Regions from separate parts of the Homo sapiens genome. Here region 2 is linked to region 1. The links come from fine-mapping of genetic effects on gene expression. A gene starts in region 1. The other region holds a variant in brackets. All regions are shown on one strand. Distances are from middle to middle.

Evidence for each region. PIP is the estimated chance that this variant, and not a neighbour inherited with it, causes the effect.
Region 2: its variant is fine-mapped to the expression of APOL5 in subcutaneous fat (GTEx, PIP above 0.99). The same link has a PIP of 0.9 or more in breast, left ventricle, thyroid, tibial nerve and visceral fat.

Annotation. Positions count from the first base shown.
Region 1 is chr22:35,713,848-35,722,357 of GRCh38, reverse strand. APOL5 (apolipoprotein L5) reads right to left here and starts at 4,486. Exons shown (of 5, transcript NM_030642.1): 1 at 4,432-4,486; 2 at 1,704-1,790. The coding sequence starts at 4,486.
Region 2 is chr22:35,643,458-35,651,967 of GRCh38, reverse strand. It overlaps APOL6 (apolipoprotein L6), which reads right to left and starts at 3,522. Exons shown (of 3, transcript NM_030641.4): 1 at 3,345-3,522. RefSeq lists an enhancer at 3,518-3,817. The variant G/A (reference allele first, on the strand shown) is at 5,029.

The DNA of each region.
Region 1 (8,510 bases):
GCACTCCAGCCTGGGCGACAGAGGGAGACTCCATTTCCTGAAGCCTCTAGTCTGCCTCAACCACTGGCTGATTTTCCCCAAGATAGGAAAAATCATCCCTTTCCCTTTACCAAAGGAGGAGAGGTTAACATTGTACAAGCACATAGGAAGGGCCCCTGTTAACTCCAGTCCATGCAGCATGCATTGGCCAGTAGCCAAAGTCAAGGACACGGATAAGAAAAATGGCTGTGCCTGTGCCTGAAAAGTCAATGCCTTTTTTGGGGAGCTTTCTCAGACTTAACGGGAGCACTGGGGGGAAATCTTGACAGTGGAGGTGGGAGAGAGAACAGTAGAGGGAGGCTGGGCCAAGGACACAGAGAAGTCAATAACTGTACCTGTGTCTGAAAGCGCAGGCAACCCATTTGCATGACGCATGAAGATTTTATCTTTAGGCATTTGGTTGCTATAAATTGCGGGAGCATTGCAACCCACTTTAGAGAACCTTATGGACACTTTGGCAAGAGTTAAGTGCAACCTCTGTTAGGCAGCAGAGTTTGTTGTGAGTCTATTGCTGCAGCTGAGCTCTGTGGGAGAGTCTGAATGCCCAGGCCAAGGCAACGGAAAGGGAAGTCCCAGGAGCTTGGATCTCAAGGCAAGACTCAGACATTATCATGGGTTGGGAAAGGGTGAAGGCAGACCCAGGAAGGAATATTCCTGGATTGGGAGAAAACCAGCAAATTCTGCTTCTAGGATTCCATTGCCCTCTAAGCCATGTGTCTGGGCATCTATCAGTATACCAATGTACTTACCATTACCAAAGGATTTTTTTTTTTTAAATGAAGCCCTGCTCTGTCGCCCAGGCTAGAGTGCAGTAGTGGTGCAATCTTGGCTCACTGCAACCTCCGCCTCCCGGGTTCAAGCAATTCTCCTGCCTCAGCCTCCCATGTAGCTGGGATTACAGGCATGCTCCACCACACCTAGCTAATTTCTGTATTTTTAGTGGAAATGACGTTTCACCATGTTGGCCAATCTGTCCTTGAACTCCTGACCTCAAGCGATCCGCCCACCTTGGCCTCCCAAAGTGCTAGGATTTCAAGCGTGAGCCACCGTGCCTGCCCTTACCAAAGGTTTTACATTTTTTTTACTAAGATATTTTTTATGCGGATGTGTACATTTTATCTTTTTTGCATATCTCCAATTGCACATGAGACAACATGAGCAACACTTCAGCCAACTTGGTTGGAACCCATTTGTATGTTTCATCCTATGAAGGTGGCTACAGATCTGGATATTAACAATCAGATTTTATTCCTTCATTCAAATACTTATTGACAGCTGGGCACGGTGGCTCACACCTCTAATCCCAGCACATTGGGAGGCCGAGGCGGGTGGAGCATTTGAGATCAGGAGTTCAAGACCAGCCTGGCCAACATGGGGAAACTCCATCTCTACAAAAAATATAAAAATTAGCCGGGCGTGGTGGCGGGCGCCTGTAATCCCAGCTACTCGTGAGGCTGAGGCAGGAGAATCACTTGAACCTGGGAGGCAGAGGTTGCAGTGAGCCGAGATCGTGCCACTGCACTCCAACCTGGGCAACAGAGAAGAGACTCTGTCTCAAAACAAAACAAAACCCAAATACTCATTGAGTGCTGGGTCTGTGACAGACACTGTTTTGGATGCTGGGATTGTGGCCATAAGCATAACAGCCTGTTCTCTGCCCTCACGGAACTCAGGTTCTGGGGACTTCCCCCAGACCTCACCTCCGTAGATTACCTTTCGAAGCCACATTTCTTTACAACCTTCTCCCAAGCCTGGAGATGGACAAGGATCAGGGACATTTCTTCTTGAGTCATCTCAGCCCGAAAAGACATAACAGTGCTCCGGGAAAGTTGGCTGTCTAATTACAATATTGGAGAATTAGAAAAAAAAAAGAATACAACAAAAATCTTAATGTCTCAGAAATGTCACATGATTTTTGTCTAATGATTTTAAACAAACAAACCATGGGAATGCCCAAGGTTGACTAGGATGCAATAAAACTGGAAATCGCTTAGGCTTCTAGTGGCAAAGTAGATTGGTAAAGCACTTTTGAAATGTTGACGTTATACGTTAATGATATGGGAGCAGGCAGGGAAGTGCTGCTTACATAAAGGCATGGTCCCCGGTGAGGGTTCCACCCTCGGGCCTGGGCCCATGGATCTAAGTGAGGACAAGCATTTCTGCTTTCGCTCCCAAATGCTGCATTTTCTAAGACCACTCTGGCCCGCCATATCCCCACCTAACAGGCAGACACACACAAGTAGCTGGACATCGAGAGGAACACACAGGAAGAAGAATACACCGGCGGATGCTGACAGGTCATCCACGGCTGAATGACATGGAATTTAGCCAAAGGCAGTTGGAGGAGAACCGCTGAGTGGCCCAAATCCAGGGGAAGACCACCTTCCCACTCCATCCCCTTTCTGGCTCCCCATCCATCTGCTGAGAACTACACTCGATAAAACCTTGCACTCACTCTCCAAGCCCACGTGTGATCCAATTTTTCTGGCATACTAGGGTTAGAACCCTGGAGTACAGAAATTAGACCCTCTGCTTTGTCCTTCCGATAAGCTCACTGGGGCTCGGGAGCTGCAAACACTCAACCCTAGATGGGGCTGCTGTGGGGTCGGAGCCCACGCTCCCCAAGACCTGCCGGTCCGCATGCTCCCCCTAGGGGTTTGAGCCGCAGGGCACCGAAGAAGTGAGCCACACCCCGTTTTATACTGTGCAAGGGGGATAAGGGAACTTTTCCCATTTCGTTAAGTCACAAAAGTCTTCTGAGAATCATCCAACAACACAATGATAGGCACCAAGACAATCGGGGCCATGTTAATTGATAACATTTTTAACTTGGGAGCAAGTGAACGCTCATTCTGTCCAGTGCCTATCATCTATAGCCCTGAGAGAGGCACAGTCCAGTCCCTGCTGAATGACACCTGCCTGATGACAAGGCTCGTGGGCGGGATGGTGGTTGGTTTTACCCAGGCAGGCAACACAGCAGAGTCCACCTTGTTCAGACACTCTCTCTCACATTGCAGCTTCTTTTGTTGCTCAAAAATCACTTTAAATGTATTTTCAATATAATTTGACAAAAAGATAGTCAAATTTGACAAAAAATATAATTTGACAAAAATCACCCCTAGTTCTCCTGCAACATAACTATTGATTTCATTCTCTACTTCCCGTTATTTTTCAAATCCGTATTATTTTTCGCATGGCTTTTATACTTATAATGGTGTGTCCTGTTTTTATTTATTATTATTATTTATTATTATTATTATTTTTGAGACGGTCTCACTGTCACCCAGGCTGGAATGCAGTGGTGCGATCTCGGCTCACTGCAACCTGCGCCTCCTGGGTTCAAGTGATTCTCCTGTCTCAGCCTCCCGAGTTGTTGCAATTATAGGTGCGCACCACCATGCCTGGATAAGTTTTCTATTTGTAGTAGAGATGGGGGTTTCACCATGTTGGCCAGGCTGGTCTCAAACTCCCAACCTCAGGTGATACATCTGCCTTGGCCTCCCAAAGTGCTGGGATTACAGGCATGAGCCGCTGTGCCTGGCCACGTGCCCTGTTTTTAAAATGTAATGTTATACAAGTATTTTCCATCTTGCTATACAGTTGTTATAACTATTATTTTTGATGACTCTATGCTATTTCCTTAAGAGAAGATGTATTGTCATGTTTATAGAAACACTCCCTTATCATGGCACTTTGGCGTCTTTTTTTTTTTTTTTTTTTTTTTTGAGACGGGGTCTCTGTCTGTTGTCCAGGCTGCAGTGCAATGGCGCGATCTCCCAGTTCAAGCAATTCTCCTGCCTCACCCTCCCGAGTAACGGGACTACAGGTGTGCACTACCAGCCTGGCTAATTTTTTGTATTTTTAATAGAGACAGGGTTTCACCATGTTGGCCAGGCTGGTCTTGAACTCCTGGCCTCAAGTGATCTGCCCATGTTGGCCTCCCAAAGTGTTGGGATTACAGGCATGAGCCACTGCGCCCAACCGTGCTTTGGGGTCATAACAGTTTTGATATCCAGATGAGTTCTTTGATAATGTCGCCACCTTGTCCTGCCTGCTGCCTCTACTTTAACCAGAAATGGAACCAGTGATTGACCCCTTCCCCGCTGCCACACTGCTTCAAGCAGGGGCTTAAAGAGCTGCTTATGTTTTTAGTTAAACTTTACATTTTTAGTTAAACTTTACAAAGGAAGTTATTTGATGTAGTATTTTCAAACCTGAGCAATTGAGAGGGTCTCATGATATCTCCCTCATTAAAACCAAGGATCTGCTATATCTCCACCCAGCAATAGCATATGGTGGGTATAAAAAATAGTGTAACGTATTTTTTCTATTTCTGGGACAATTTGTACAACGTGAGAATTGCTTGTTTTCTGAAAGCTTAAAAGAACTTACCAGGTAACACCTTGGAACCGGGAACTTGCAAATTTCCTTGTTTGCCACATGGCATGCTTTAGATTTTTTAAAATTTAAGCTTATAATATGATTAATAAATATGACTCCCTTCTCCATGCCTGAAACCTGTCTCTCCCAGTCCTCACCTATTTTTTTTTCTTTTCTTTTCTTTCTTTTTTTTTTTTTTTGCGATGGAGCTTCTCTCTGCTGCCCAGGCTGGAGTGCAGTGGTGCAGTCTCAGTCACTGCAACCTCCACTTCCCAGGTTCAACTGACTCTTCTGCCTCAGCCTTCTGAGTAGCTGGGATTACAGGTGCCTGCCACCATGCCTGGCTAATTTTTGTATTTTTAGTAGAGACAGGGTTTCACCATGATGGCCAGGCTGGTCTCAAACTCCTGACCTCAGGTGATCCGCCCGCCTTGGCCTCTCAAAATGCTGGGATTACAGGCGTGAGCCACTGCGCTCAGCTGCTATGGCTTTTGGAAGGATGATTTAGGGTATCTTTCTTTTTTTTTTTTCTTTCATTTGGAGATGGTCTCATTTTGGCACCTGGGCTGGAGTGCAGTGACACAATCTCGGCTCACTGCAGTAACCTCCCGGGCTCAAGTGATCCTCCTGTCTTAGCCCCCCAAGTGGCGGGGACTACAGGTGTGCACCACCACACCCAGCTAATATATATATATATATATATTTTTTTTTTTTTTGTAGAGATGGAGATTCACCATGTTGCCCAGGCTAATCTCTAACTCCTGAGCTCAAACAATCCACCCTCCTTGGCCTCCCAAAGTGCTAGGATTACAGGTGTGAGCCACTGCACCTGGCCTTCTTGGGATGTCTCTTAACATGAGAAGTACATGTGCCTGACACTCAGCATCCCACCTCTAGAAATACACCCACCACGGACACAACACAACGGCACAACACAACACAACAGACAAACGTGTATGGATGTTCATCCAGTTATTTGAAGTTGTATAAAGAAATGGAAACAATTTGAAAAATCCATGCCGGGGACTGTTTACATGAAAATAGAGCAATACAAAATAAAGGTTTATGGATGTGAAAAGGAACGAGGCAAATCTATGTACAACTGACCTAGAAAGAGGTCCAGGATATATTAAGTAAAAGAAAAGAGGTTGAAGAATATGTTCTTTATATTCTTTTCTTATTTTTTTTAAGTACTATATATGTGATGTAGGAGTAGGGGAATATTCTCGAAGGAGATACACCAAATGTGAACAGGCTTAGCTCAGGGAGGGAGATTTAGGGCTAGGGTGACAAAATACTTTTGCACTTTTCACTCATCTATATTATTGAGCTTTGTTACCAAAGTAACTTGTTAGTTTTATAATAAAAGCCAATAGAAGCCAGGCACGGTGGCTCACGCCTGTAATCCCAGCACTTTGGGAAGCTGAGGCAGGTGGATCACCTGAGATCAGGAGTTCGAGACCAGCCTGGCCAACAAGTCTCTACTAAAAATACAAAAATTAGCCAGGCGTGGTGGTGGGCACCTGTAATCCCAGCTACTCAGGAGGCTGAGGCAGGAGAATCTCTTGAACCCGGGAGGCGGAGGTTGCAGTGAGCTGAGATTGCACCACTGCACTTCAGCCTGGGTGACAGAGCGAGACTCTGTCTCAACAACAACAAAAAGCCAATAGAATAAAAAGATTTTAGTAATGAGATTTATTATTCATTATTTTATCATAAAATCTCCCACTTGTACAGTAATGCATTTGGTGCAGGGAATGCTGCCAAGTACATGGTAAGACAAAATCTGACAAATTAATACTGTTAAATGTTAATATTGTTTTCTTTTTTTGTTGGTTCTATGTAAGTTTTTCTAACTTGTTATTTTGGCCTTTTGTGTCCTATTTATTTCAGGTTATCTCTTGGATGTAGAAAATTACTCAGATCTGATTTTGACCCAATTTGATACTTTTCTTAATGTTATTCATATTCATATTAATTATTTTTTGTTATAATTATTCAACTTTGATTTGTCCCATTATTTTAGGCATTCTGCTTTTTATTTCTTTGCTCTCTTCCTATGCTCTACATAGATAGGTACAGTGCAGAGGTTTCAGCTGATGCAGTGAGTGGTTTATTGTGGCAGCCCGGAGCTTCACCTTGAAGGCAGAGATGTGTGTTATCTGCGCTTTCCTGCCTACTCTGTGTATACCCAGTAAATGACAGATACAGAACAACACTTAGAATAAGACCTCATCATTCATGACACTAAGTTTTGTTTTTTTATGTATGTATGTATATATTTATTTAATTTTTGATACACAGTCTTGCTCTGTGGCTCAGGCTGGAGTGCAGTGGCACGATCTCGGCTTTGCAACCTCTGCCTCCCTTGTTCAAGCGATTCTCCTGCCTCAGTCTCCCGAGTAGCTGGGATTATAGGTGTGCACCACCACGCCCAGCTAATTTTTGCATTCTTAGTAGAGACGGGGTTTCACCATGTTGACCAGGCTGTCAACCTCCTGGGCCTCAGGTGATCCATCTGGCCACCTCAGCCTCTCAAAGTGCTGGGATTAAAGTCCTGAGCCACTACGCCCAGCTGACACTAAGTTTTTTATGTTTAAAATCTTGCTCAGCTCTCCCTGCTGTCCTGGGCTAGAATAGATCTTGGGAGATGACTCTATTAGACTTTATTTTGGGGAGGAGGCAAGAAGGGAGTGAGCAGGGCTGAGACCCAGCAAAGGCAGAGGATGATCATATAGCGGGAGTGGGAGAACCACTGGACAGGTTCTGGGTCTGTCCATGAAATGGGCTCATAGTTCCCTTCCAGTTAAATTCATCTCCTATGCAACTTTTGTGCTTTATGCATAGGATGAGAGGTCAAACAACATCATCTTGTGTTTGATTATGTACACAGATGTTTCACGAATCATCATATTTCATAATCGATCAATTTCTGATAATTTAAAAATGCATCTTCCATGAGAAAGCTCAGAATATCACACTGAGAGCGAGAAAGAACTACCCTTCTCCCCCTGCTTTGACTCACGTCTCCCAAACAGGGCGTTAGACTCTTCTGAGTGGTTTCCATTACAAGACACCCAGGAGGCCACCTTCAGTGGAGGCTGTGGCCACTGTGCTCAGGGATCACACACAGATGCAAGGAGCTTGCTCCTCTCTCCTGCCTCCTCTCTCAACACGGAAGAAGGGATCCACTGGCCCCAGTTCATTTATCTTGCTTTCTCAACTCTTCTCAGTCGGACACCCTGCATTCATTGCTGGAGGACACAGCGATCCTGAACTTGGAGTCTGGTTTTAGAGGCAGGGAGAGGCTCACGTAGACCTAAGCCAGGTAGTTCAGTCCATTCTGCCAGAGAGCTCTGCTCTGGAGAGTCAGCCCCAAGCCAGAAGGGTAAAACGAGGCATTGTCCTTTTCTGCTACTACTGTTTGCCATTGTCCCTCATGCTAATATCTCCCTCGAGGGCCACATAGTGAGAAGGCATGGCTGGGCCAAAAACAAATCTAGGCACTTCTGGAATTCTCAACCACACAACCAGATAACAGTGCCTGGACTGACCACAAAACTGGACCCATTAAGAGTTGCAGGGCCCAGAGGGATAACGCAGATTTTTATTTATTTTTATTTTTTTGAGACAGAATCTTGCTCTGTCATCCAGGCTGGAATGCAGTGGCATGGTCTCAGCTCACTGCAACCTCCGCCGCCCAGGTTCAAGCGATTCTCCTGCCTTAGCCTTCCAAGTAGCTGGGATTACAGGTGCGCACCACCACGCCTGGCTAATTTTTGTGTTTTTAGTAGAGACGGGGTTTCACCATGTTGGCCAAGCTGGTCTTAAACTCCTGACCTCAAGTGATCCACCTGCCTTGACCTCCCAAAGTGCTGGGATTACAGGCTTGAGCCACCGCGCCCGGCCAACACAGATGTTGTATTCTGACTTGAGTATGTATCTGGATCTGAGGTTCATGAAATACAGTCACCACAGCTAAGGAACCCAGGATGAGAGGTCTCTAATTGTAGGAGGAGTGTGAGCAGAATCTCATGGGAGATAGGGCAAGAAAGGGACTTTAGTTCCTCACCTTCACTTTCGGACCCAGG
Region 2 (8,510 bases), 70 kb after region 1:
GATTCCTCAGGGATCTAGAACTAGAAATACCATTTGACCCAGCCATCCCATTACTGGGTATATACTCAAAGGATTATAAAACATGCTTCTATAAAAACACATGCACACATATGTTTATTGCGGCACTATTCACAATAGCAAAGACTTGGAACCAAGCCAAATGTCCAACAATGCTAGACTGGATTAAGAAAATGTGGCACATATACACCATGGAATACTATGCAGCCATAAAAAAGGATGAGTTCGTGTCCTTTGTAGGGACATGGATGAAGCTGGAAACCATCATTCTCAGCAAACTATCGCAAGGACAAAAAACCAAACACCGCATGTTCTCACTCCTAGGTGGGAATTGAACAATGAGAACACATGGACACAGGAAGGGGAACGTCACACACCGGGGCCTGTTGTGGGGTGGGGGGAGTGGGGAGGGATAGCATTAGGAGTTATACCTAATGTTAAATGATGAGTTAATGGGTGCAGCACACCAACATGGCACATGTATACATTTCTCCGGGTGAAATTATCCTGGATTCAGGGTGGCCCTGAAATCCATCACTGATGTCATTATAAGAAGAGGAGGTGACAGAGAGAGACACAGCAAAGAAGGCTGCACGCAGACAGAGGCAGAAATTAGAGTCGTGCTGTCAGAAGCCACCGAGGCTGCAAAAGGCACAGATGGTCTCCCTGGAGCCTGCAGCAGAAGTGCGCCCTACTGGCACTGGGATTTTTGACTTCCAGCCTCCAGAACTGTGAGACACTAAATGTCTGTTGTTTGAAGCCACCTGGTTTGTGGTGCTTTCTGACAGCAGCCCTAGGGAAGCCAATACATTCCTTTGCATCTCTTCTCTACATTTGGTACTTGGTCCAGCGCTTACGGCAGAAATGCTGTTTCCTAGATATAGCTTCTCCCTCAGCTCATCCTCCCTTCTCTCATCCTCTTCCCTTCCACTTCTAAAAAGTTAGAAAAAAACATCCTCCCTCACACACTCTGAAGGGACACAAATTCTTTATTTTTAAAAAAATTTTTTTTTTTTTTTGAGACTGAATTTTGCTCTTGTTGCCCGGGCTGGAGTACAATGGCATGATCTTGGCTCACTGCAACCTCCACCTCCCAGATTCAAGCGATTCTCCTGCTTCAGCCTACCAAGTAGCTGGGATTACAGGCACGTACTAACACACCCGGCTAATTTTTGTATTTTTAGTAGAGATGGGGTTTCACAAGGTTGGCCAGGCTGGTCTTGAACTCCTGACCTCAGGTGATCCACCCACCTCGGGCTCCCAAAGTGCTGGGATTACAGGCATGAGCCACCATGCCCAGCCCAGGACACAAATTTTTATAGCCATTCATTTATAGCCATTCATTCATTCATTCACTTATAGCCATGAATACAAGTTTAAGGTTGAAAATTTAGAAATAAATTATAAAATCCACCTTACGCTCACCATATGGAAATGCATGCTGTTCATGTAGTTTGTGTGAATTCTTGTCACCTAACATTGTATCTTAGTAGTTCCCCAGGCGATACATAGAAGCCATGTCGCATTTCATTTTACGAATGTATCATTACACATTCAATAACTCTCTCACTGTTGAACCTTTGGGTTGTTTTCAGTTATTTTAAAATTTTGTATTTATAATTTTTGGTTAAAATCCTTATATAGACGTCTGTCTACATGTTTGGTTATTTCTTTGGGGTAGTCTATGAAAAAGAATGAATGCTTCAAAGATAAAAACCTTCTCCCCTCTTTGGTATGTGAAGCTAGGTTTGGTTTAGGGGGCTTGGCACCTTTAAGAGTTTACTTTCACCAGACATACATCTACCTGCTTTACACAGTGACCCAGTGAGATCGGTGCTAAGATGATGCCCATTTTACAGAGGTGCAAACTGAGACATAGGGAGGCCAGTGTCACACAGTAAGCAGGAAAGCCTGTGCAATTCCAGCCACGCAGAGTCTGGAGTAGTTGGTCCCAAACAGGGCGTGTTTGCTCCTCAGGGACACTGCTAATATCTGGAAACATTTTTGATGGTCTCAGCTGGAGAGGGTACTGCTGTTGGTATGTAGAGGGCAGAGGCCAGGGATGCTGCCAAGCACCCTACGATGCAGAGGACAGCCCCCACAACCAGGGATCACCTGGTTGAACATGACAAGGTTGCTGGGGGTAAGAGACTCTGGTCTGGAACCCCATTTTTTACCAGCGTCCGCCAATACCTCTCTCATTTTTTTACATTAGTCCTATGGGATGCAGGGCAAAGGTAACAGCAGGAAACTCATCTAAGCAGGTCCCATTCCATCCCCTCTGACCTGCTCTTGGTGGTTGCGAGAGGATTTGCTTGTGAGAGGTTTATTGGAAGAGGATTTGAGAACTTACTTTCATTTGAAAGCTTACAGGATATTTATGACAGTCTTTCCTTACCTGCCTTCCCCCACAAAACCAACTTCTGCAGATACACAATCTAAGTAAGAAAAATCTGCTTACTTTGAAAACACAGCTTCAAGATAACCTCCCTAGATTTTTTTTTTTTTTTTTGAGACCGGGTCTCACTCTGTTGCCCAGGCTGGAGTGCAGTGGTGCGATCACTGCTCACTGCATTCTTGACTTCCTGGGTTCAAGTGATCCTTCCACCTCAGCACCCTCCCAAGTAGCTGGGACTACAGGTGTGCACCATCACGCCCAGCTATTTTTTGATTTTTTGTAGAGACGGGGTCTCACTATGTTGCCCATGCTGGTCTCAAACTCTTGGGCTCAAGCAATCCGCTTGCCTTAGCCTCCCAAAATGCTGGGATTACAGGCATGAGCCACTGCGCCTGGCCTAGTCGCCCTAATATTTATCACAAACTCCCTCACCCTCTTCCCCAAACAACTTCACATAAATCTACAATCTAGAAAACTCTGTAGGTTGGCTTTGCAGTTTCTAGACAACTCACCCAGCACCTTTTTTCTTGTGAGATGACACCCCTAAACCACTCCTCTACTGAATTTCTAGGGAAACGCCTGTGGCTGATGTAATCATCTGCTTTCTAAGGGCCAGGTCCCCTCTGCCTAAGCCCTCGGATCCCCAGCAGTGGAGGGACAAATGCAACTTGGCTAGTCACATCGCATGCTTTAGCATGTTTCAATTTAACCCTGAAATGGCTGTAAGGGAGGGAAACCTACCAGGATTAACACAGGAGAAGTTAATCCTCAGACTCTCCTCAAGCTCTGGCTGGCATTTGAACCCCGCTGCTTTCACAGCAGCTCTTTTCCCTGAGTCAGGTGCCTAAAGCCAACCCCTTGGGGGCTCTGTCCTTCAGGGACCAGAGCGGCAGCCCCCTCCTCCCCCGACTTCTGCCCGCCGTCTCACCTTCTCTCCACGGAGCTCTCCTTTGTGGCCTTGGGTCCCGAGGGAGAGGAAGATCCTGAACCTCTGTCCTTGCCTCTCCGAGGTCCCCTGGTCTGGCAGGGGGCTGTGAGTGTCTGGGCTGGAGAAAGACGGATAGGAAGAGTAGGGTGGCCTTTGAACAGGAATTGATTGCAAAACTGGTTTCGGTTAAGTGCTGCAGGAGAGAAAAAGCAAAGCTCTAGGGCTCTTCCAGGAAATCATGGGCTCCAGCTGTCACTTTCAGTTTCCTTTTTGCCAGTTTCTCTAATTGGATGAACAAGGAGGTGAAAGAGCAGAATCCAAGTCAGGAGGCCTGAGTCTCTCGTCTCTGTCCTGGCTGTGTTATAGGATGGACCTATATGGGGTATGAAAATAGCTCCTGTGGCTTAGAGCTATGGTGAGGAGCCCATGAGCAAGCGATGGGGCGCCTGTTGAATAGTGGATTCACAGTAGCTGTCATCACTGATTGTTCTGAAACTGCTTTCCTCCACAGCATCTTACGTGACGCTGATGTGGGTAACAACCCTATGAGGTGCACAGCATTAAAGGGCTAATAACTCTGAATGCAGAATCCTCTGAAAATGGAAACTTTATTTTATTATTATTATTATTATTGTTTTTTGAGATGAAGTCTCGCTCTGTTGCCCAGGCTGGAGTGCAATGGCACGATCTCGGCTCACTGCAACCTCCGCCTCCTACGTTCAAGCTATTCCCCTGTCTCAGCCTCCCTAGTAGCTGAGATTACAGGCACCTGCCACCACGCCCGGCTGATTTTTGTATTTTTAGTAGAGATGGGGTTTTGCCATGTTGGCCAGGCTGGTCTCAAACTGCTGACCTCAAATGATCCATCCATCTAGGCCTCCCAAAGTGCTGGGATTACAGGCGTGAGCCACCGCACCTGGCCTCAGAATGAAAACTTAAAAAAAAATGATAATTTATTCATTTAGTGGCAAAACCTGACCTGATCTGGCATGAATTCACCTGTGGTTTTTATGTCTCCTGCTTAATTTGAATATTTACAGTCACTGCAGAAATATTAATATGTTTGACTGAGGAGGGCTGCTGCGGGTGCGTGGGTTACATAGTACACGATACCTGCACCCCATTACCTTTCTAAAAATCCCCCAAATCAGGAACTCTGACATGCATCTGGCCTCAAGGATTGGAGATATAGGATTGTGATACTCTGTCTCCCACTTTAAGGAAGAGGAAACCCAGGCTTCTAGAAGTTGTGGGTTGTTTGTGATTACACAGCTAAGAACCAGTCCTAGGCTCTGTGTCTACAAGAATGAGCCCACAGTGAGGTTACGGGCTGAGATCTGTGTCTCTCTAGCATTTGTGTCAAATTGTGATCAGAAGCCATGTGGTTTGTTTGTATTTATATGCCCAGAAGTCCCCAGTCACCACCCCTAGCTGAGACCACATTGGAGGCTGTTGCTTTGCAGAAGGTGCGGCCCACCTAGCCAGTCCTGGCTTTGCTGTGATAGAGGCCACCTCCTGTCCCTGGGCCCTACGAGCAGGAATGAGGGGTTAAGGGCTGCTGAGTTGGGTCTTGTAGGGGCCTTTCCAACCGTGGCATCCCGGATTCCACAACCCACCCCTGCTCCTGGCCTCCCACACTTGGGGAACACGCTAAACACAGCCTGACCTTGAGGAGGACTTGGCT[G/A]CCTGGCTGGGGCCGCTGAGCCATCCCAGGCCTGCCTGTTGTTTTCCCTGGCAACGGACCCAGATGTTGTGGTCACTGCTCGGTCCTGGGAGTCTCAGGGGCCAGACCGGCCATTGGATGGGGGCAGTGTTTACCACCAGGGCTCTTGTGAAACAATCGCCCCAAGAGATGCCATGTGAGAAAAATGTTCTGTAGCCAAATGCAGGAAGTGCTGCTTATGTAAGGGGACAGAAAACATCCACCCTATAGCTCAGATGAACAAAAGTAGGGAGTCGCTTAATTTCCTAGAGTCCACTTCCCTTCCCTCAAGGGACCCAAGACCTGCTGAAAAGAAACAAACTTGCCTGAAGGCCCCTTAGTCTCTTGTGATTTAAAACACACTCTCGGACCGGGCGCGGTGGCTCACGCCTGTAATGCCAGCACTTTGGGAGGCTGAGGCAGGTGGATCGCTTGAGGTCAGGAGTTTGAGGCCAGCCTGACCAACATGGTGAAACCCTGTCTCTACTAAAAATACAAAAATTAGCTATGTGTGGTGGCGGGCACCTGTAATCCCAGCTACTCGGGAGGCTGAGGCAGGAGAATCGCTTGAACCTGGGAGGTGGAGGTTGCAGTGAGCCGAGATTGTGCCACTGCACTCCAGCCTGGGCGACAGAGCGAGACTCTGTCTCAAAAAAACAAACAAACAAACACACACACACACACACACACACACACATCTTTGGGTAAAGTCTCTCATTTGGGGGTGAATGTTCAGGCAATTTAAGTTCAAATTTTCTATCAGGGCTTTTTATGTTTTCTGAAAAGTTTGCCTCTCATTGAGGCTGCAGTGAGCTGAGATTGCACCACTGCACTCCAGTCTGGGTGACAGAGCAAGACCCTGTCTCAAAAAAAAAAAAAAAAAAAAAGAAAGAAATTTGCATGCCTCGGAGATGGCACCTGGGGGCAGGGGCTTGTGCTGGCCCTCTGGGGTTCCACTGGCCCACAAAGAGGGTCCTTTGTGACCCTTCCAGCAGGCATTGCTGGCTCCTGGACACCTGGGTTCTGGTTTGCCTTGGCACCTCTCTGAGGAGCTGCAGGTTTTCTGTGTTGCAGCCACAACCAACCCACTCTGGGCTCAGGCTGTCTGCCTCCCAGAGAGCTCATCACGCCTCGGCCCAGTGGCCCCTGGCACAGGCAGGGACCATCCGTCCTGGGATGGGGGAAAGGCCTTGAAGCACACTTTGACCCTGAAATTCTTGGATTCTAGAAATTTCTTTTCTTCTCTCTGGCTACAGCATTTAGGGAGAGTTTGAACCTAGGAGGCGGAGGTTGCCTAGAGTTTGAGCAAATGCTGCCCTGAGACTGCAATTTGCCAAATGTAGCAAAAGTTCTATCGTGGCCTCCATTGCTTTGCCTGGAAGCAGTTTCAGGATCCTGGGAGCCCAGGCCAGAGCGAAGCAGGGAAGCAGCCATTACAAGGGGAGAGTGGAGCACTGAACTTGAACCCAGGACCACCAAAAGGGCCAGGCCTCGCATGGCCACACCCTTGTTGCTTGGCGTACAGCAACTAACCCTCACCCACTTCCATCCCATCTCCTTCCCGGGGTTCTTGTGAGGAAGGTTTTTGTTCGTTTGTTTTTTGTTTTGTTTTGTTTTTTTGAGACAGTCTCGCTCTGTCGCCCAGGCTGGAGTGCAGTGGTGCGATCTCGGCTCACTGCAACCTCTGCCTCCTAGGTTCAAGCAATTCTCCTGTCTCAGTCTCCAAGTAGCTGGGATTACAGGCATGTGCTAATACGCCTGGCTAATTTTTGTATTTTCAGTAGAGATGGGGTTTTGCCATGTTGGCCAGGCTGGTCTTGAACTCCTGACCTCAGGTGATTCACCCGCCTTGGCCTCCCAAAGTTCTGGGATTATAGGTGTTAGCTATCATGCCCAGCGGAATGAGTTATCTTGACAATGGTAAAGGTTGATGCACGCACCAGGTGCTCTGGCCATCATTACCATTTTTGTATACACAGGACTCATCTTTTTTTTTTTTTTTTTTTTTTTGAGACAACGTTTCACTCTTGTTGCCCAGGCTGGAGTGCAATGGCACGATATCGGCTCAGTGCAACATCCGCCTCCCTGGTTCAAGCGATTCTCCTGCCTCAGCCTCCTGAGTAGCTGGGATTACAGGCGCCCACCACCACCCCCGGCTATTTTTTTTGTATATTTAGTAGAGACGGGGTTTCACCATGTTGACCAGGCTGGTCTTGAACTTCTGACCTCAGGTGATCCACCCGCCTCGGCCTCCGAAAGTGCTGGGATTACAGGCATGAGTCACCGCGCCCAGCCCCAAGGATTCATCTTTCATGAGAGATCTGAGAGAGCGAGAGAGGGGATGTCTCTTTCTTTCTACCCTGGATTAAAAATGAAGATGTCTGGCATCCTGGGTTGGAGGGATGGGAACTTCCATGTGCAGAATGTTACATGTGGAGCACGTGCTCGGAATATTTCACTCATCATCGCATTTTATCCATATGCTCCTTCTATGAAGCAGGGAGCACAAGCCCAATATATAGCTGCCAAGACTGATGTTCATGGGTCCAAGGACCTCATCCAAGATCACAGTGTCTGACATGACTAGGGTTAGGCGTAGAACCCAAATGTGTCTACCTCCAGTTCTTTGCACTAAAACACATCACAGAAGTCCACATCTCTGCTCTGTGGCTGAATGATCAGTGAGTTTGCAAACTGCTCTCCTTGTGGTAGCCTGGCCAGGGGTGGGGTGGAGGTGGGCAGGGGCTGGAACAGGAGGTACAGGTTGTGCAAGAGGCAAGGTTAGTTGGCATTTTGGTTAGCAGGTTGCAAGTGACACATCATCTTGGAGCAGTGTAAGCAAAAACAAGGAAGCCATTTATCCAGCTTGGTTGTTCTTATACTGCAAGTCACAATTTACAGTGTCATGAAATCAGCTTAGTGGGTCTCAAGAAATAATAAAGGGAAATGAGGTTGGACATGGTGGCTCATGCCTGTAATCCCAGCATTTTAGGAGGCTGAGGCTGGAGGATTGCCTGAGCCTAGGAGTCAGACCAGTTTGGGTAACATGGTGAAACCTTGTCTCCACAAAAAAATGCAAAAATTAGCCGGGTGTGGTGGTGCGCCTATGGTCCTAGAGACTGGTGTGTGTGTTGAGGGGATGGGGGATGGGGGGTGCTGAGGTGGGAGGATCACTTGAGCCCAGGAGGTTGAGCCTGCAGTGAGCTGTGATCGAGATTGTGCCACTGCACTCCAGCCTGGGAGACAGACCATCTCAAAAAAAAAAAAAAAGACAGACAGAAAGAAAGAAAATGAAATGAGATAAAGTAAAAAATATCAGAGTATATCATACATAATAAGGGTATAAGTAGTGTTTCATGGAAATTATGTCCATATAGTGATGATGCACACACTTACGTGTGTGTGTGTGTGTGTGTGTGTGTTATGGATTGCACTGTGAAATGGGTCACAGATAGAATGCTCGA